Regions from separate parts of the Homo sapiens genome. Here regions 1, 2 and 4 are each linked to region 3. The links come from fine-mapping of genetic effects on gene expression. A gene starts in region 3. Each other region holds a variant in brackets. All regions are shown on one strand. Distances are between the middles of the regions. Region 1 overlaps ACAD9 (acyl-CoA dehydrogenase family member 9). Region 2 overlaps CFAP92 (cilia and flagella associated protein 92 (putative)). Region 3 holds the start of ACAD9 (acyl-CoA dehydrogenase family member 9). Region 4 overlaps H1-8 (H1.8 linker histone).

Region 1 (5,196 bases), 36 kb before region 3:
AAGAGTTTTTAAAGGAGGGTTTTATGTAAAACCTAAGGCCTTTAAACCTAAGCCCTCACAATTAGTTTGCTTGGATATGAAATTGTAGGTTGAAGTTAACTTACCTTGTTGCTGTTGTGGATCTGATCACAAGTGATAGTTTTTCTTTACAGGTGGCCTGCTCTTTTCCTCTAGAAGCTTTGAGAGTTTATCTTTGTATTTGTTTGCTTAAATCCCACTAATAATAGTGTACCCAGGCTTGGAAGTTTTGTCTTTTCTGACATTCATTATTGCTTCAAATTTTCTTGTTCTCACTTTTCCCCTCCTTTTGGGATTTCTGTTATTTGGATGTTATTTCCATCCTCTATACTCAGTTTCTAATTTTATCTTTTTTATACAGGACTGCTTTCTGAAAGCATATCTCAAGTGGATATTCCAGTTCATTCATTCGTTCTACAACAGTATCACTTCTGCAATATATCTCATTCTCTTGTCTTCTATTTCAACTATTTTCATACTCAATACTTTTTCTTTTAGTTTTACTTCTGCTTCATATTGCTATCTTCACTCTTATTTTAAAACAATTTCTTATGTTAAATTCTTAGCCCATCTTTTCCAATAATTTAGCTTCAGTTGTTCAGTCTGTGGCCTTTTTTAAATACTGTATTTACTTCTCCAGCATCTAGTTACTTTTGCTCTGAGTCCAAATTCTCCTGCAGGTGTCACCCCTCAGCAGAGAATCTCAGGCACCCAGAAGAACTACGGAACAGTTTGCTTTCCCTGTAATAAGCATTAGGTCAGAATTTCAACTTCAAATTGTAAGAAAGGAGTAGCATGGAAAGAAGAATCTGTCCCCCTAGGTTGTAATTCACGAATTCTAGGATTTGGAAGGAGCAGGGGACTTCTAGGAATGGCTAACTGAGAAACTCAGATCAACTCCCCCACTAAGGACAACTAGAAAAACTGGACACATCAAGAAATATTGATTGAAGTTCCATGTGGGCCATGACAGGATCCTTGCTCTATGTGGCATCCCTAGTATAATCTTCTCGCAGGTGCTCCAAAGTCTGAGGACCTAGACTTGCCTTTACCTTGCATCCCTTGTTGCCTGGACAGTCTGTTCTTTCATGTGTGTGAATCACAAATTTTGTCCTCCCCTGATTATTTTAAATTCTTGTGCATTAATTCCTCAAAGATTCCAAAGTCAAGCCACTGTAGTTGAGCTAAGGTCACCATCTTGTGCTAAAAAATTTTTTAAAGGTAAAAGATGGTATTTTGCTGAAGGTTACTGTGAAATATGCATATGAAACACTGCACAGTGCCCAACAATTTAGAGTGGTAACTTTCCCAGTTCTCCCTTGTTTTGGGTCCCAGCCACCTTTCCCCCCAGCCTTCTGTGTTGTCTTTTATCTCCTTCCACATTTCTATTTTCATTCACAAAGGAAGCCAACAGACCATCTTATTTCTCTCTGTTCAGGGAAGAGTTCCCATTTCCTTACTGGGCCTGCTGGACAGAATGAGGGTCATAATCCTTATGCACACTTGACAGTTAACCATGGTCAAGGATGGCAGTCCTTGCTGCTTTAGGTTGTAATATCCCCTGTCCACACTCTCCTACTTCTGACCATGTGAGACACAAATTCTGTCTTTATCACAAGGTGGTTGGGAGATGAGTGGCCAGATGATGTGTGTTCCAGTTACAGTGACCTTAGGGGTCTCAATTTTTTGGTCCTCTTAAATTCCATTTTGGATAGTGAGAGGTTGGACTAGTTGGCCCTTTGCCCTGGTTCTATGATGAAATAACAGCACCAGTATTGAAGAATCAATCAATACCTGCACCACAGCTAAGTCCCAGAGATCATCTCACTGCATATGAGCTGGCATGGGGGGTGAGGATGACCTGGTGTGGGTAGTGACTGGTGTCTCTTTCTTCAGAAAAATATCACAGAAGCCTACCAGGTCAGCAAGAAGCCTCCGAAGTCCGTGGCGAAGGTGATTAAAATTTCAGCCCCTGCCAACAAGGCCGTCTACAACTATAGTACCCAGACCATGAATTCTACAGAGCTTGCCAAGAAGGAGCTGTATCAAGAGATAGCCAAGGTGAGAGACCCAGACAGGATGATGGCAGTTGGCAAATCCCATGAGTTCTTTATTCTGACCATGCCTGCCTGGAGGTCAGTGGGGGATCTCAACTATACAGATGAAAGCCAATCAGCTAGGGGAAGTAGACAAGGCTCAGATGTTGAGAGGTGTTCTGTTCCACACTAAATGTGAATCCTCCACACCTGAGGGTAAGCCCAAGATCCTCAATGTAAGCTCAGATGTACATAAAGGAGAACAACTGTAGCATCCTTACCTCTGGGGAACACTTTATGATTGCTGCTTATCAAGGCAGCTACCAACAGAAGGGAAAGCCATGGTTTAGGCTTCCAGCACATATTAACTTTAGGAAACGGCTTCTCCCATCAAAGGGGAC[A/G]ATAATATGTCCCTTACAGGGCTACTGCACAGTCATTTCCTCTCAATGCACTATTTACATTGTCAGGAACTATGATTATGCCCCCAGCTGTTTCTGATTCCTACTTGGAAATAAATCCAAGATTGCTATTAGCCCTTCCACCCCAACCTGTCTGCCCCCATTTCTAGGAGCCAAGAAAGAGATTCACGTACTCACAGGATTACCTCTCAGCCATGGTGGAGCCCCTGGACTTGAAGGAAGAGGAGAAGAAAGCCCAGAAGAAATCCCGCCAGGCCTGGCTCACAGCCAGGGGATTCCAAGTGACAGGTCTTCAGAGCGACACCGAAAGCAGCTTTCAGGATCTCAAGCTGCCACCCATCAAAGAGCTGAATGAGGTCCACAGGGAAGAGCAGGGTCTCAGGTGGGGTGTCCATAGGGACCTTTCTCCTCCTGATTTACTTACTCCCCCAATTTAGGAGTGGAAGGAAAACTCCCTGTTTGCTAATGTACTGGAGCCTGTGTTGGATCGAGACAGGTGGAGCTGGGACAGGCACCACGTGGACTTTGATCTGTACAAGAAACCACCACCTTTCCTCGAGCTGCTCCCTTCGCCCGCACCAAAGCCTGTAACAGGTAACAGGCAAGGGTTTGCCAAGCTGGGCCTCCTGATGCCGTGGGCAGGCAGGAGCTCTGTGCCACTCTGCATCTTCAGTGGTATCCATTTTGTTTACACTATCAACCAAACTTTCTATGCTAAGAAAAGCAAGATGCAGAATGGGTCTGAAAAAAGAGATTGAATGCTGGGCTGGAACTCAGACCAGGATTCTAGCCCCAAGTGTGACATTTGTGTGACTTGAGGCAAATCCCTTCATGCCCTGGGTCTGGTTTCTTGGCTATAAAGTGGGGAAGTTGGAAGACAGGTCTAAAGGCTTCCTGAGCTTCAACACTATTACCCATGACTGATCTCTAGGTGTCCAGCCAAGAGCTGGGGGCAGAGGCTCTGGGCTTCACTGGGACCTTCCAGCGGCAAAGATACTGACAGTTCTTTCTTTGGGGTAAGGCAGAGACAGGAAACGTAGGTCTTGCTGTACCAGTCCCTCCAAGTCCTCTTCCTCTTTATCCCTGTTTATGAAAATTGATCTCAGGATCATCTGGAGGTTAACATAGAACCCAAACTTGGTTAACAGAGCCAGAACCTTTGTTCAGGGAGAAAGAGACATGAGCCTATCTAAAAACAAGGTCTGCCAGAGAAACTTCTCCCAGAAAACTAGGTCAGGTGAACGTGATGGCTTCCTCTCCTCCTCGACTCCTAAGGACAACTGATCACAGCTCCATGGAAGTGCTAACAAGTTTGCTGAAATGTCACTTTCTCCATTTGCCTAGACTTGGCTCCCTCCCTCCCCAGTAGGCCCTAGATCTCCCAGGTTGCCTGAAGAGACCTGCTCTCTGTGGGCATGTCCCAGGCCCACAGTTACTGCTGTGGCTCTCAAGGAGGCTCCAGCTAGGAGAGCTGTCTAGCCTAAGAACACAAGGCTTTTCCTTGGTAAGAAGGCTTCCTAGTGAGCTCCACTGCCAGCCTTCCCAGCAAAAGTCTCCTGGGGGTTTCACTGGTGAAATCACTTAAGAAACACTTGCTGGGGTCTCCTCTTCCCACAACATGTTTAAGAAAAGTTAGCAACTACAGATGAGAGGGAGAGGCTTGAACTGGTCGCTAGGCCTTTTCAACCCAGATGGATGAATGGAGAACTTGCCATTCTCCATTGGCATGTAAGACTGAGGCCTTACACGCCACCAGCCTAGAGTGAAGCCCCCTTCCAGAAGGCTGCACAGAAGGGGGGTGGGTCTGACAGCCCCTCCCCAAACTTCTCCTGTGCAAAGAAACTCTAAGCAGCCTTCTGTCCAGAGGTATGCATGCTTCATTTTGTGCAAAATGCTGCCCTGCTATCACTAACAGAACTTCAGGTTTCACTGAGAGGTTATTTACACGGTCACAATATTTACAAACTTTCCCCATTTTAAAAACTAGTTACCAAACCCCTGGCAGAATGCTCAGGCCAGCCCCACTCAGCCAGCTCAGCTCTCCAAGTTCCCAGTCTCCTCCTTGCCTATTTCCAGCATCACAGTAAATTGGGAATATACTTGGAGGAAAAAGAGTCGGCTGCCTTCTCTGTGCTCAAGGGAGTGTCCACAATAGGCATTTTAGAGCTCCAGACCACCCAAGGACCACATCAAAGCTTAAAGTTCACCACAGTGAGCACGCTGGGACCTGGTGTAATCTTTCAAGTGCCAGCAGAAGGGAGGCTGGAGAAATGCAAAGGCCTGCTGGCCTGGAGATACCATTCATCCTCTCCTCAAGAGTAGAAGCCAGTTCTTGTAAAGAAACTAAAGTCCCTAGGTGGGAACATCATCAGCTGAGACAGCCTCCCCATCATCTCCTGAGAAGGATAAAAACTAAGGGCTCATAACCCCAAGGGATTGTGGCCTGCACTGTGTGTCTGCTCCTTAGCATTCTGGGCCCTCCTTGCAGGGTGAGGACAAAGGGGACCCGAGGCCATCACCAAAGGGTGGTTCTCAGGGTCCTGCTGTCACCCATTAAAGGCTGGTTCTAAGGAACAGTGTGACAAGTACAGCAAAGGCTAACAGTACACAGATTGTGACATTTTATATTCTTTGTTAAATGGTTCCTGGTACATGTTTTAAGTGCCTCTGCTTCTAGTTTAAATGAATGACCCAGACAGAGCTTTCAAGCTGTTTCTTAGAGA
Region 2 (5,196 bases), 71 kb before region 3:
AGCATGTTCATTACTGCTTCAGATTCCTTTTCAGATAATTCCAAGATCTGTATCATCTCAGTGTTGGTGTCTGTTCATTGGTTTTTCCCATTCAAGTTGATTTTTCTGGTATGACAGGTGATTTTTTAAAAATTCTATCTTGGATATATTGAGTATTACATTATGAGACTGTATCTTATTTGAATCTTACGTTTAAGCTGGGTGCTGGAGAATCACTTGAGCCCAGGAGTTTAAGACCAGCCTGGGCAACACAGTGTGATCCCTTCTTAATTTTTATTTTAATTAGCTAGATGTGGTGGCATACACCTGTAGCCCAGCTATTCAAGAGGCCGGGGTGGGAGGATGGCTTGAACCCAGGAGGCTGAGGCTGCAGTGAGCTATGATTGCACCACTGCACTCCAGCCTGGATGACAGAGACCCTGTCTCTCAAAAAAAAAAAAAAGAAGAAGAAGAAGAAAAGAAAGAAAAAAATTGTATGTGTAGCAGGCCTTCTCCAACACCAAACTGCATGTGTAGCAGGCCTGTGGAGGGGGAGATGAGAGAGTTACCATCTCAATACTGCCAGGTGAGACTCCAGGTTCCCCACTTGGCCACTGTACCCTGTGGGTAGGGATATCTTGTTACTGCTCTTGTGGACTTCACTGATACATGATGGGAGGCTTCATTTCCATTGAGGGTTGGGGAAAGTCCTGGCTCCCCACCAGGTCTTTTCTGACACTACCCCAGTGAGGTAAGGAGCACCAAGTTAAAGTCAGTGAGGGTAGAAGTCCAGGCTTCCCATGTAGCCTTTGTTTCTGGGGTGGGGCATGATTTTTTCCATGGTGTGTGTCTGGGGTAGGGAGGTTATTTGCCTAAAAGTTTGCTGTTCTGCTGAGTTGTCCCTTTCTTCGTCTTTGATATGGAGAAAGCAGACTTTTCTTGGGGTCCTTTCTGCCTACTCTCACTGGTATTTCTGGATACTGCCTTCTCCAGCACTCAGTCCGGAATATATGAGGCAAATAGAAGACCCAGGATCCCATGTTCCCTAAACACCTTTTCTGTACTTTTCAAAGTCTTTGTATTTTTTTTTTATATATACAACCTGCAGAGTTTTAAAGCTGTACTTAGTAGAACTAGAAGTGTGTCTATTCCATCTTGATCCAGAACAGGAACTCTGTAAGTGTATTTTTACCCGTGAAGCTGGGGATTCAGTGGGCCATTTCAACCTAGAAGCCCACATCCTTCAGCACCGGGAAATTGTCTTAAATTATTTCACTGATTATTTCTTCATTTTTTTCCCCCTTTCTTTTTGGGACTCTGTTAGCTAGATGCTGACTCTCCTGGGCTTTCCTTTTTTTTTTTTCTGAGATGGAGTCTCGCTCTGTCACCCAGGCTGGAGTGCAGTGGCACGATCTCAGCTCACTGCAACCTCTGCCTCCCAGATTCAAGCAATTCTCCTGCCTCAGCTTCCTGAACAGCTGGAATTACAGGTGCCTGGCACCACACCCAGCTATCTTCTACTTGTTTTTATTGTTCTTTCTCTCCTAATTGATCCTTTTTCTAGGAAATGTTCAGAAAAGAGTGAACAGAGTGGGCCTGAGACTACCGTCCTTAAAAAGTCCTGTTTGCAGAGTTGACCCAGGCTGGTATATGGGAACTTGCATTTTGAGAGGGTTCCCCGCACTCCCCGTTAAGAATGGCTCACTGTGCCTAAATGGCTTTTGCAAACAGTATCGTTTGTGCTGAATGCCTGCTTTCCCTTTGGGAGGCTGAGATTTTCATACATGCTAGGCAGGGGGTGCTATGTGACCAGGCCTCAGCAAAAGCCCTAGGCAGTGAGTCCCTCATGGGCTTCCCCAGTGGACAGCATTTCACACGTTGCTGCACTGCATCAGGGAGGAGTTGAGCACCCCCTGTGTGTATCCCCTGGGAGAGGACTTCAGCAGCTTGTGCCTGCCCCCTTTGTTGTTTGCTTTGTCTCTTTTGCTGTAATAAATCACAGACACAAGTGCGCTGCACCCATGCTGAGTTCTGTGAGTTCTCCTAGCGAATCACTGAACTTGAGGGTGTCGGGGGCCTGGGACACAGCACTTCCAGCTTGCTTCATGGGCACTGTCGTCACGTGTGTAGTCCGCTTCCTTTAGGTTGATCTTCCTGTTTGTTTCACTCCACCTTCCAGGTCAGACGTTTTCCTCCACTGTCTGTTAATCCCCTGGCCCACTGCTCATGGCTGAGAGAGCACAGACCTAAAAGGCGAGCTTTGGGTGCACGGTGGGCTTCTCAGCTCTGAGCTTCACCATCGGGTGATCTGAGTGGGGCGTTGGTGGGAACCCCTGGGTTCTACAGGGCTTTCCTAGTTCCCTGCCTGGGGGGTCAGGGTCTAGCCTGCTGCATTCTGAATGCCCACAGACAGAAAGGAGCTGGGAATTTGCACTAAGCAGTGAGCATTTGGTCACCTAATCTCCCTATTTGGGAACGGCACAGATGCCCTCAACTATCCCCTATTCCAGAGACCCTCTGTTATTTTTTTTAAAAAACAAATTTTTCTACAGTAAAATTGATGTTTATCTTTTGGTTT[A/G]TAGGTCTATAAATTTAAAATTATGTATAGATCAGGCCAGGTGCAGTGGCTAACACCTGTAATCCCAGCATTTTGGGAGGCTGAGGCAGGTGGATCATTTCAGGTCAGGAGTTTCAGACCAGCCTGGCCAACATGGGGGAAACCCTGTCTCTACTAAAAACACAAAAATCAGCTGAGCGTGGTGGCACGTGCCTGTGATCCCAGCTCCTCAGGAGGCTGAAGCAGGAGAATTGCTTGAGCCTGGGAGGCAGAGGTTGCCGTGAGCCAAGATCGCGCCATTGCACTCCAGCCTGGGCTATGAGAGAGAAACTCTGTCTCAGAAAAATAAAATAAAATCACGTATAGATCAATATTATCACCACTACAGTTAGGATACAGTTCTGTTACCCCAAACCCCTCCTTTGTACTCGCCCTTCATAATCACTTTTGCTTCACACACATAACCTCTGACAGCCACTGATGTGTTCTTTATGACTATAGTTTTAACTCTGGAAGAATGTCATGTAAATGGGGCTCTGTGTTTTGCAGCATCATGCAGCTGTAACCTTTGATTCAGCAGATAACAATGTGCATGGCCTCTCCACTCAAGGTAATGCCTTTCAGATTCATTCAAGTGGCCGCATCTATCGGTAGTTCTTTCCTTTTCATTGCTGAGCAGTATTCCATCACAAGGGTGTACCACAGTTTGTTCGTGCACTCATCAAAGGACATTTAGGTTGCTTCTAGTTTTTGGTAATTATGAATAGAGCTGCTTAAAAACAGTGTACACATGTTTTTATAGGAACATAAGTTTTCAGTTCTTTAGGGTAAATGCCAACAAATGAAATTGCTAGGCTATATGTTAAGTATATGCCTGACTATGAAAAACTGCCCACCATTTTCCAGTGCGGCTGATCACTCTGCATTCTCATCAGCAGTGAACAAGGGTTCTAGTTGCTCCCTACCCTCTCCAGAATGTGGTATTGTCAGTATTTTAAGTTTAGCCAGTCTAAGAAGTTTGTATTGTTATCATATCATGGTTTTAATTTGTAGTTCCCTGACGGATAATGATGTTGAGCATCTTTTGATGTGTTTATTTGCCATTTTACATCCCATTTGGTGAAATTTCTGCTCAAATTTTTGCTCATTTTTCAGTTGGGTTGTTTACTGTCTTACTGCTGAGTTTTGGGAGTTTTAAAAAATATATATTCTAGGCTGGGCACGGTGGCTCACGCCTGTAATCCCAACACTTTGGGAGGCTAAGGCGGGCGGATCACTTGAGGTCAGGAGTTCAAGACCAGCCTGGCCAACATGGTGAAACCCCATCTCTTCTAAAAACACAAAAATTAGCCAGGCCTGGTGGCGCGTGCCTGTAATCCCAGCTACTCAGGAGGCTGAGGCAGGAGAATTGCTTGAACTGGGGAGGTGGTGGTTGCAGTGAGCTGAGATTGAGCCACTGTACTCTAGCCTGGGCAATGGAGCGAGAGCCTGTCTCAGGGAAAAAAAAAAAAAAATTCCGGGATGGGCACGGTGGCTCACGCCTGTTATCCTGGCAATTTGGGAGGCTGAGGCAGGAGGATCACTTGAGCTCAGGAGTTCAAGACCAGCCTGGGCAACATGGTAAAACTCTGTCTCTACAAAAAAAAAAAAAAAAAAAAAAAAAAAGGAAAGAAAAGAAAAATTAGTGGGGCATGGTAGCACACACCTGTAGTCCCAGCTACTAGGGAAGCTGAGGTGGGAGGATCAGCTGAGCCCAGGGAGGTTGGGGCTGCAGTGAGCCATGATTGCACTACTGCACTCCAGCCCGGGGCAACAGAGCAAGACCCTGTCTCACCATAAATATATATATATAATAAATGTGTGTTTACATACACATTCTGGATTTAAGTCTGTTGTTGGATATATTATTTGCTAATATTTTCTCCCAGTCTGTAGTTTGTCTTGTCATTCTCTTTTATTTTTAACCCAATCTGTGACAAGCACATCTTTTCATTCTCTTTACAGTGTCTTTTGCAGAGCAAAAATTTTAATTTTGATGAAGTCCAAATTATACATTTTTTTTCATGTATGCATTGTGTTTCTGTGTCACATCTAAGAACTCTTTGCCTAACCCCTGGTCAGAAGGATTTTTTTTTTCTGTTTTCTTCTCAATGCTTTAATAGTTTTATAGTTAACATTTATATCTTCGATCAATTTTTTTCTTTTTTGAGACAGAATCTCATTTGTTGTCCAGGTTGGTGTGCAGTGGTGCAGTTGTAGCTCGTTGAAACCTCAAACCTCCTGGCCTCAAGCAGTCCTCCTGCGTCAGCCTCCCAAAGTGCTGGGATTAAAGGTGTGAGCCACCACACCCAGCCTTTGATCAATTTTGAATGAATTTTTGTATATGGTGTGAGGTTTACGTTGAAGTTTCTTTCTTTTGCACTTTTGATAAACATAGATTAGCCATACTTGTGTGGATCTGTTTCCGGTTTCTCTTTTCTGATCCGTGGGTCTGTGTCTGTCCTTTCAGCAACACGACACTGTCTTGCTTATAGTAGCTTTGTAGTAAGTCGTAAAAATGGGTGAAGTGGTTCCTCCAACTTTAGTTTTCAACATTGTTTTAGCTCTTCCAGTTTCCTGGCTCTTCTATACAAATTTTAGAATCAGTTTATCAATATCTA
Region 3 (5,000 bases):
GGCATCAGGATATTGATGATATTTAAAGCCAGGACACTAAATAAGGTCACCCAGCAGATGGCTGTAGATGAAACGAGACCCAGCCTTAGTAAATTCCAACTTGGCTAGTTGGAAACACTGGTCACTGTTTAGCGGTCAAGGAGCTGAATAAGAACCAGCAATGGACACAGAGAAGTATCAGCCAGTGAAGTATTTAGAACATTCAGAGAATGGCGAGAACAGTGATTCAGAAACCAGAGACGAAAGTGCGTCAACAGGGTGGAAGGATGAACGGTGTCAGATGCCAATGATGGGTCAAGTAGGATGAGGTCTGAGAACAGATCACACAATTTGATAACAGAGAGGTCATTACTGACTTCTATGGCCATTAGGGACAAATGCCTGAATGGTAAGGGCTCAAGATCCAGTAGAGAGAACAGTTAATGATGCAGAGAAAGGAAAGAATTACCCTTGAGTAGGTGAGAAGACCTGGAGTCTAATGAGAGGTTGGTTTTGCCAGGAGCAGACAGTTCACAGTAACAGAATGTAGATAATACCGGCACATATGCAGCGGGAGGGGGTAACTGTGCCTGTGAACTTCTCATCCGACTGCATGGATTTTCCCAGTGGAATGGGAAGCAAAGCTGACAGCTGAGAGTAAAGGCAGGGCAGGGCAGGTAGTGCCAGAGGTTTAAAGATGGAAACAGATCTGAAAGATCTGTGTTCTTTCTTCACCATGCTGCTGGATAGCAGGAAGTCCCAGGATAGAGCACCACACTGCCCCAGGTCCTGGGTAAAAGGTTTTCCAATATGTTCAAGACATAGCTCCGCACTTTCTAGCTGGGCAAACTGCTTTTAGTCTGAGTCTTAGCTTCTTCATCTGTAAAGTTGCTTGCTATAAAGGTATCAGCCTGACAACCTCAGAGGAACGTTCCAAAGAGAAGCCAGGGAATAACTTCTGTGATACAGGATCAGCCAACATTCAGCCAAGTTCAAAGTAGGGCACCTCGACGAAATAGCAAGTATACTGTTGGTTTCCTTAGAAGATAAAATGAAATACAAAGGAAAGAGCAAGAAATGTGTTTATTCCTATTTTGTAGATGAATGCACTGAGGCACAGGGAGGTGCAGCCGTCAGCTCCAAGGTCACAAGACTAAGTGTTGAAGCCAGCTCTCTCTTCTGCTGCACAGTACTCTACAGTTTAAGAAGACTCTCCATGCACCGTTTATCTCACTGGGGCTCTACAACACATCTGTGAAGGAGACACAACACTATCTCCATTTTAAGGCTGAAAGAACTGAGTCTTGGCCGGGCGCGGTGGCTCACCCCTGTAATCCCAGCACTGTGGGAGGCCGAGGTGGGCGGATCACCCGAGGTCAGTTCTAGACCAGCTTGGCCAACATGGTGAAACCCCGTCTCTGCTAAAAATACAAAAAAAAAAAAAGCCGGGCAGGCGCCTGTAATCCCAGCTACTCCGGAGGCTGAGGCAGGAGAATCGCTTGAACCCAGGAGGGAGGTTGCAGTGAGCACTCCAGCCTGGGCGACAAGAGCGCGACTCTGTCTCAAAAAAAACAACTGAGTTTCAAAGTCAACGAGCCAAGACCAAACCCAAGTCTTCCAACTCTAAGAAGACAATGAGTGTTTTATAACCAAACTGTTACTATTGGCTGGGTTGTGCCACCCTTGGGAAGCATCTTGGAGCCAGATTTCTGAGGAACCTCAATGGCAGGGAGAGGCGCTGGGCTCACCTGGGGAAGGAAGCCCCAGGGCGCTGGAAGGTGACTGAGGAGGGACATGGTGTAAGCTGTTTAGGAATCAGAGAGGAAGCCCCGCACATTTCCAGACCAGACCAGCTGAGATGAAGGCTGCTTTGTTAATTACCTAGCCTAGAGTTTTCCGAATTCCCCTGACAAAATTTAGCTGGAACACGTCACCACCACATTTCCAAGGGTCCCCCGTCTTGGAAATGTCTCACCCTTTCTCTGGGAAGGTTTTCCTGGAACTCAGGAATCCGGAGTGTTAACACGCCTCGGCCGCAGGGTGTATCTCTCTGGCAGGTTTGGGGAATCTCACAAAGTTCAACACCAGTCTTGCAGCTGAGGGTGAAAAGCGGGAGCCAGACAGCAAGGGTTCGCCCAGGGCTCGCGTTACCTTCTTGATTTTGCCTAGGAAAAGCTCTTTGGCGAAAGCTCGTACAGGCGGGCTGGTGCGCAGTAGCCGCCGGTTCGCGGTAGAGACCACCAGACCCCGGCAGGCACGAGCCGCAGCCGTGGTGCGCAGGAAGAGCCCGCAGCCGCTCATGCTGCCCGATGTTCCCCAGCCTCAGCCTCAGTCTCCCCTTCTTAGCGCCGCAGGGACACACACACGTCTGATGACGTTACTGGCCCGCGACAACGTGCAGTACTCACTGCGCTTGCGCGGTCCCCCGCAGCAGGGGATGGAGAGGCCAGAAGGGCGGGAAGGCTACCACCTGCCGCGCCCAAGGCCTTAGTCACGTGCACCTGGCTGGCCCGCGCCGCCTGATGACGTCACACGCCTACGCTTCCCGCCGGCCCCACTGCGCTTGCGCGGCCAAAGGAGCTGGCCGGAGGAAATTGTAGGCCCTGGGCCGCGGGCATCTCGGCGGGTATAATCTCTGGCCGTCGTGACGGCGGTGACGGACCTGTTTTTCACATACCAGCGGTTGTTTCCATAAATGCCAGCCATGGGAAATCTCCCTGTGTACAGAAACCTAAAGGCCGGCTCAGCTGCCTCCACTTGTCTCTTTTGTCACTTGTGGCCACGAGGCCGTGGTAAAACTTGAGAAAAGCAAAAGAATGAGGGAAATGCGCTGTATTGGGGTCTCTGCAGGGGCACGGTAAGGGTAAGGGTCCATTTTTAACTGGATGGTGGATTCCTGAGATACTGTTTTGTTCCTAGTTGACATGTATGTTACATATATTTTTTGGAAAAGGAAAAGAAAGTGGGTGTTCAGTCACAGAGCGGTCTGGATACAACTGAGTCACCTCTGTCCTGGGAAACACTAACTTAAAAGGCAGGCGGAGGAAGAGAAACTACAGAGAGAGCTGAGAAGAGATGGGAACTATTGGATGGGATGGGACAGGCCAGGCTGTAACCGCCCAAGGTTACAGCCCGCTGACTAGACAGCTGATTTATCAAGACGGAAATTGCAATAGAGAGAGAGTAATTCACGCAGAGCCGGGTGTGTTGGAAAGGGAGTTTTATTAGCCAAATCGGTCTCCCCAAAAACGGATCGGAATTTTTAAGGATAATTTGGCGAGTAGAAGCTCGGGAAGTGGGAGGTGCATGATTGGTCGGGTTGGAGATGGACTGATAGGGGGCCGAAGTGAGTTTTTCTTGCTGTCTTCTGTTCCTGAATGGGATTGCAGAACTAGTTGAGCCAGATTACCAGTCTGGGTGTTGGTAGGTTTTACAACAGTGATGTTATTCCCAGGAACAATTTGGGGGACGTTCAGACTCTTGCAACCAAAGGCTGTATGGCCTCTAAACTGTAATTTCTAATCTTATAGCTAATTTGTTAGTCCTCCAAAGGCCAACTGGTCCCAGGCAAGAAGAGGTTGTTTTTTGTTGTTGTTGTTGTTGTTTTCCCGGGAAAGGGCTATTTTTGTTTTGAAGTTAAACTATAAACTCATTCCTTCCCAAGGTTAGTTCAGCCTACGCTCAGGAATGAACAAGGACAGCTTGGAGGTTAGAAGCAAGATGGAGTTGGTTAGGTCAGATCTCTTTCATTGTCTCGGTTATAATTTTGCAGTGGCGGTTTCAAGGCCAGGCCATAGGGGCCCACGTAGGAGGCAGGGCATGCCTGGCACCTCACAGCCCAACAGTGCTCTGAACGTGGCACATGGGCCCTCTACAGATCTTCAGCCAGCTCCTCCAGGAAGAATGCCACTCTGCTTTTTCACCCAGACCGGTAATCTGGCTCAACAAGTTTTGCAATCCCACCTAGGAACAGAAGACAGCAAGAAAAACTCACTTCAACCCCCTATCATTCCATCTCCAACCCAACCAGTCAGCACTCCCCACTTCCCGAGCTCCTACTCGCCAAATTATCCTTAAAAACTCCGATCCCTGTTTTGGGGGAGACTTGCTTGTTCCCCGACTGTAGCATTGACCACAGTGTTGGGAAATGCCTCCAGCTTCCATTGTGTCAACTCCTTGAGAAGAAAAAGAAATCCCTTTCATCTCAGCAAGCTAAGCTCAGCACCAAAAAAGATTACATTGCTAACACAACATCAAGAAAAAAGAGCTCAAAACTCTGCAAGGCGTAGAGTCTAAACTGCAAAATATTTGCAGGCATCTTTTCAGATTATTTTACCTTGTCTAAGGTCTCTCACCTGGTTTCTTCATCAGTGGTTGATATTTACTTGCTTAGCATTCAGCTTCACAAGAAGGTATTTGGAAACAACTGCCTTTGTAAATTATCCCCATAGGTAAAACAAAGAAAAATATACATATGTTGCAAAAACTGTTTCAATTTTGAGCTGCTGTACTTTTTTGCCAAACAAATGTAGTCAAATCAGTCAAGTACTCTGTTAATGTGTCAAATGTTTAGTGTACACAGGTCTCCCTAAATCAACCAAATGAGAAATCCAGTGGCACAGAATTTTACAAAACAAAAATTAGAAAAATGTTAAGGCATAGTTTCTAATTGCTCCAATAGAGTATAGCAGAAGAGTTTTGCTGTTTCACTACTATACTAGTTTCTAAATTCAGTTTCCTCATCTGTAAATATGAGTATGATACCCTTTATCTCACAGGACTTTTAAAAGGTTTAAGTAAATCCACATGAAAGCACTTAGCACAGCAAGTGATAAAAATGACAATAGTTACACTTTGATCCTTCCATCTTATATTTAAGTATTAGCCTCTGAGAAATATGATGTTGTTTTAAACAGTTTCCCCTGTTCAGTGTACTAAAAGAAAAACTTCAGCTGAATTAAATTTAAAGGAGCTTAATTGGCCGGGTCGGGTGCAGTGCCTCATACCTGTAATCCCAGCAC
Region 4 (5,196 bases), 670 kb before region 3:
GCTGGAGTGTGGTGGGGCGATCTCAGTTTACTGCAGCCTTGACCTCCCAGGCTCAAGCGATCCTCCTGCCTCAGCCTCCCAAGTAGCTGGGGCAACAGGTATGCAACACCATGCCAGCTAATATTTTTATTTTTTGCAGAGATGGGATCCTAGTATCTTGCCCAGATTGGTCTCTAATTCCTGGGCTCAGCACTCACCTGTGTGACAGAGCAAGAGCCTGTCTCTAAAAGAGAGAGAGGAAAAAAAATAATAACTCTAGCCCTAGCTGCTTCCTGTCAGAATCCTTCCACAGCTCTGCATTGTCCTCCAGATAAAGCCCTGATTCCAGCTGCCCTTCACAGCTTCTCCTTGCCAAAACTGTAGGTAGACTGAATTACATGCAGTTCCTCAAATACTCCACCTTCTTTTTGTGTTTTGTTTTGAGACTGAGTGTCACTCTGTCACCCACGCTGGAGTACAGTGGTGCGATCTCGGCTCACTGTAACATCTGCCTCCTGGGTTCAAGTGATTTTCCTGCCTCAGCCACCCAAGTACCTGGGATTATAGGTGTACACCACCATGCCCAGCTAATTTTTGTATTTTTAGCAGAGACGGGGGTTCACCATGTTGACCAGGTTGGTCTCAAACTCCTGACCTCAAGGGATCCGCCCGCCTTGGCCTCCCAAAGTGTTAGGCTTACAGGCATGAGCCACCATGCCCGGCCTAAAAACTCCACCTTCTTTATGCCTCCAGGCCTTTACACAGGCCCTTCCCCTGCTTGAGACACCTTCCTCCACTGCCTCAAGAATGAGTCAGTCTCCTGGTCTCTGCTTCCCCCTTCATAACCCTTGAAATGTCTGCCTCCTTCCCCCAACCAGCTACCATGAGTTCTCTCTCTCCAGGTCAAGCCCAGCACTCAGGACACATGCACTAGATAAGGAAACCCCTCTCCAGAGCTGGCTCCCCGCCCCCGCTCCAGTGGCTGTCAAGACCCCCATCCCCACACCACCCCCTACAAGTCACACAACTACCTTGGCTGCTCCTGCTGCCTTTGGCCTTTGCCTTCCTGCTGAGCCCACCAGCACTGGAAGGTGCCCGCATGGCCTTGTCTGGCTTGGGGGGCACCTTCCTAGCCTCTCCCGACTGTGCCCTGGTGTCCTTGGCCGCGCCGCCTTGCTTGCGAGCCTTCTCTGTGGCTGCGCCTGGCTTGGGAGGAGGCTTCTGCACCTTTGCTGGCCTCTTGGCTGCCTTTTTCACCTTGCCCACGTTGGGAGGGTCCTCCTTGGCCTCACTTGGTTTCTTGGGGCCCTTCCCCTTGGCCTCACCCGCTCTCCTGGGAGCCGTCGCGGGGGCCATCTTCCTGGGCTGGATTTTCTTCTTGTGCTTGGGAACTAACTGGAGAAGGACACGGGGTGGGGCTGAAAGCAGAGCCTCAGGTGCCTCACGCCCCCCACCCCCCGTAAGACTCCGAATGGGAGGCCTCGTTCCAAACAGGGGGGCTCCACAGGCAGTGAGAGGCAGGGAGAAGGCACGAAGCCACTGTCCTTGGAGGCACTGTCTACTATGATTCTAGGATCTCAGGATCTCTCAACCACCTGCCCTAGGCCTGCCACTTTCCCACAGATTGTGCCTCTGGACTCCTCCTCCCCCACTACCCTGAAGCGCTGCCCTGCCTCATGCCCCATGCCCCCACCACCTCGCCCCTTGACGCTCAGCAGAACATGGGCTGAGGTCAGATGGCTCTGGGCTCACAGCTTCCTCCGCCCTCCTCCAGCCGTGTACCACAGCCACGTCTTCTCATCTTTACAGCAGGACAATCACCAAGGCTGTGAGCGGCAGGGAAGGGAGGGCTCCTGGCAAGCTGTTTCTTTCCTGTCCCCCAACCCTCAGGGCTCCCCATCACCAAGACTAGAAACTACCTTCACCCCTCAACTGCCAGCACACCGCATCAGACACCTGACGCCCCTCTGGCTCTTCTCCCTGCTTAGCCGCCTGGTCCTGCTGTGACGCAAGTCCAGGCTCTGACCCACGCCCAGGAGTTCTACCAGGGTGGGACTTTCTGTGATCTGTCACCAGGTAACCACAGGGACCGGCTTGGGGTAGGCTGAGAATGTTCCCCAGCATTCCA[T/C]GGCAACTGTCATGGCAGCTGCTACATGCAGGAAGTTAGGCAAGATGCAGGGGACCCAGCAATGACAAGTCAGGCCGTGGGTCTGGTCCCTGAGGTATTCCTGGTGGCTGATGACAGTCCTGATGTTGGGGTGCAGTTTTGTCCCAGACCTGCCTCAGCTCTGAGTGACCTGGCATGGGTCCCCTTTTGGAGCCTCCTTATAAAGATGAAACTCTCCCCTTTGAAACGGAGGACATGGCTGCTCAGGGAGGTGCCAGCAGAGGGAAAACCCTTTGCTGTGGTGAGGAATTCCAGGAAGGGGCTACGTGCCCAGGACCCAGAAGTTAGCACAGCTGACACAGGCCCTGGGATCCCAAACATGCAACAGTTCACCTGTCCTGGACACCAACAGGGTGACTCTTGCAGTGGGAGCTCAGAGAGGGCACACTACCTGCCTTCCTAGAGGAGAGGGCATCTCGGCTGAGACCACAGGAGGAACAAGGACAGGGGACCGGAGGGGAAAGGCCTTCCAGTAGAGGCCGCAGCACTCACAGAGGCCAGGACCATTGCTCCAACCCTGGGCTATGTCCTCCCTCAGGGGCGCTTACTTTGAAGCTGCCAGTGGCCCCCCTGGCTTTGGAGTTGAGGGGCCTGGCGAGGAGGCCACGGCGCATGCCAGTGGCCAGCGCCTGCTTCAGCAGGTACTTGAAGCGGAGGACGTCCACTGTTGGGTACTTGTGCAGGATGTAGAGCTTGATAGCTGCCACCGACGTGCCCCGGCGCTGCTCCCCAGCCTGCAGCGCCTCCAGCACCATGCGTAGCACCGGGGGGTGGCGGCGTCCCACCGGGAGGCTGCTGTGGCTCGGGCCTCCTGGTGGGACACCGCCGTGGCTCGGGCCTGAGGAGAGATGGCAGGCCATCACCCGGGGCCCAGTCACAACTCAGTGGCAGGCATCAGCTGGCCCGTGGGGGGTGGGTGAGGGTCCAGCAAGGATCAGATGCCCCCCTCTCCCCAAGACACTGACCGCTGGCATGGGAGCTCCCGGATGGTCTCCCCTCAAGGCTCACTGAGTCTCTCTCTCTTTTTTTCTTTGAGACACTGTCTCTCTATGTCCCCAGGCTGGAGTGCAATGGCGTGATCTCAGCTCACTGCAACCTCCACCTCCTGGGTTCAAGCAGTTCTCCTGCCTCAGCCTCCCAAGTAGCTGGGATTACAGGCGCTGCCACCATACCTGGCTGATTTTTGTATTTTTAGTAGAGACAAGGTTTCACCATGTTGGCCAGGCTGGTCTTGAACTCCTGACCTCATGACCCACCCGCCTCGGCCTCCCAAAGTGCTGGGATTACAGGCTTGAGCCACCGTGCCCAGCCAAATCTCTCTTTTTAAAGAATGGAGTATTCCTTTAGAAAAACAATCTAAATTGGGTGAATTTCGTAACTGTGGGTTTACAGGACCTCCGGGGGCTATGTGCACATTCTCAGAGGCACCCAGACTGAGAGACTCTCCAGGGCACACAGCCGGGTTTCTTCCACAAATAAGGGGGGAAAGAAAAAGTGGGAGGGGCACCCTATGGACTAAAGGTCCTTAGGAAACCTCTCAACCAAATGCTCATTCCCAGAGCAGGATTTGAACAATCCAACTGGAAAAAGAAAGGCAACAGATAAATGTGAGCACTGGAAGGAAATATCGGATATTAGGGATAATATTGTTTCAAGTGTGCTAATGGTATTACAATTGCTTTTTAAAAGGCTCTTATCTGTTAAAGGTAAATATTATAAAAGATATTTACAGATGAAATGATACATAAATCCAGCATTTGCTTTGAAATAACCCAGCAGATGAAACAAGAGTGTCCACAAGATGGTGACTGTTGGAGCTGGGTGACGGGTACAGTGGAAGGGAGTTACAGACCATTTGGTAGTCTACTTTTGTATCCATTTGAAAGTTTTTTGTTTTGTTTTATGGAGACAGGGTCTCAATCTGTCACCCAAGCTGGAGTGCAGTGCCACAATCATGGCTCACTGCAGCCTTGACCTCTCCAGCTCAAGTGATCCTCTTGCCTCAGTCTCCGAAGTAGCTGGGACCACAGGCACACACCACCACGCCTGGCTAATGTTTGTATTATTATCATTATTATTATTATTATTATTATTATTATTATTATTGTTATTGTTATTTGACACAGGTCTCACTACATTGCTCAGTTTAGTCTCAAACTCCTGAGTTCAAGCTATCTTCCCACCTCAGTCTCCCAAAGTGCTAGGATTACAAGCATGAGCCACCATGCTCGGCCCTGAAAGTTTTCATAATAAAAAGTTACCAAAAAATTCCACTCTTCGGTATATACCTGAGGGAAATGAAAACGCATGTCCACACAAAAATGTACACATGAATGTTCATAGCAGCACTATTCATGTCGGCCCAAAGATGGAACCAGCCCAAACATCCATGATGAATGATTGACAGATGGATGAACAAAATGTGGTCGCTACCCATCCCGTGGAATATTATCCAGCCATACAAAGGAGTGAAGCCCTGGCTACGACATGGAGGAGCCCTGAAACATGCAAAGTGAAAAAAGGCAGTCAGAAAAAGCCACATACTGTCTGATTCCATTTATATGAAATGTCCAGAATAAGAAGTCCATAGATGCAGAAAGCAGATTGGTGGTTGCCAGGGCTGGGGAGTGGGGGTGGAGAGTGACTGCTAATGGGTACTGGTTTTCTTGAAGTGATGAAAATATTCTAAAATTGATTATAGAGATGGATACACAACTCTGAGTATACCAAAAGCCATTGTACACTTTAAAGGGTGAATTGTATTGTATGGGAATTATTTCTCAATAAGGTGTTATAAAATAGTTGCAAATGAAGTGGGATCAAGGGTGGGGGAAGCATGAGAAGTTGTCAGTCACCATGAAATGCATAAAAGGGATTTAAATATGAAACCGGATTTAAATGTGGTGAATGGAAATGTTGATTTCTGATCAATCTGCAGAATTTAAAGACTTAAATTCTGGGCAATATCGTGAGACCTCGACTCTACGAAAATCTTTAAAAATGAGCAGAGTGTGGTGGTGTGTGCCTATAGGCCTAGCTACTTGGGAGGC

The links. PIP is the estimated chance that this variant, and not a neighbour inherited with it, causes the effect. A credible set is the group of variants that fine-mapping cannot tell apart.
Region 1: its variant is the best candidate, but not a certain one, in a credible set for the expression of ACAD9 in whole blood (INTERVAL, PIP 0.57).
Region 2: its variant is the best candidate, but not a certain one, in a credible set for the expression of ACAD9 in whole blood (TOPMed, PIP 0.83).
Region 4: its variant is the best candidate, but not a certain one, in a credible set for the expression of ACAD9 in esophagus muscle (GTEx, PIP 0.66).

Annotation. Positions count from the first base shown.
Region 1 is chr3:128,912,990-128,918,185 of GRCh38, reverse strand. It overlaps ACAD9 (acyl-CoA dehydrogenase family member 9), which reads right to left. Exons shown (of 18, transcript NM_014049.5): 18 at 5,072-5,196. It overlaps CFAP92 (cilia and flagella associated protein 92 (putative)), which reads left to right. Exons shown (of 16, transcript NM_001394090.1): 13 at 1,915-2,079; 14 at 2,623-2,829; 15 at 2,911-3,067. Among named protein-coding and RNA genes, the nearest start is that of ACAD9, 36 kb to the right of the region's middle. The variant A/G (reference allele first, on the strand shown) is at 2,456.
Region 2 is chr3:128,947,383-128,952,578 of GRCh38, reverse strand. All of the region lies in intron 9 of CFAP92 (cilia and flagella associated protein 92 (putative)), which reads left to right. Among named protein-coding and RNA genes, the nearest start is that of CFAP92, 44 kb to the left of the region's middle. The variant A/G (reference allele first, on the strand shown) is at 2,558.
Region 3 is chr3:128,876,972-128,881,971 of GRCh38, reverse strand. It overlaps ACAD9 (acyl-CoA dehydrogenase family member 9), which reads right to left and starts at 2,352. Exons shown (of 18, transcript NM_014049.5): 1 at 2,131-2,352. The coding sequence starts at 2,280. It overlaps ACAD9-DT (ACAD9 divergent transcript), which reads left to right and starts at 2,536. Exons shown (of 3, transcript NR_186174.1): 1 at 2,536-2,836. RefSeq lists enhancers at 926-1,777, 2,086-2,165, 1,778-2,630, 2,226-2,775, 2,631-3,482.
Region 4 is chr3:129,545,179-129,550,374 of GRCh38, reverse strand. H1-8 (H1.8 linker histone) reads right to left here. Exons shown (of 5, transcript NM_153833.3): 2 at 2,695-2,984; 3 at 1,011-1,374. Among named protein-coding and RNA genes, the nearest start is that of H1-8, 4.6 kb to the right of the region's middle. RefSeq lists a silencer at 3,475-3,769. The variant T/C (reference allele first, on the strand shown) is at 2,108.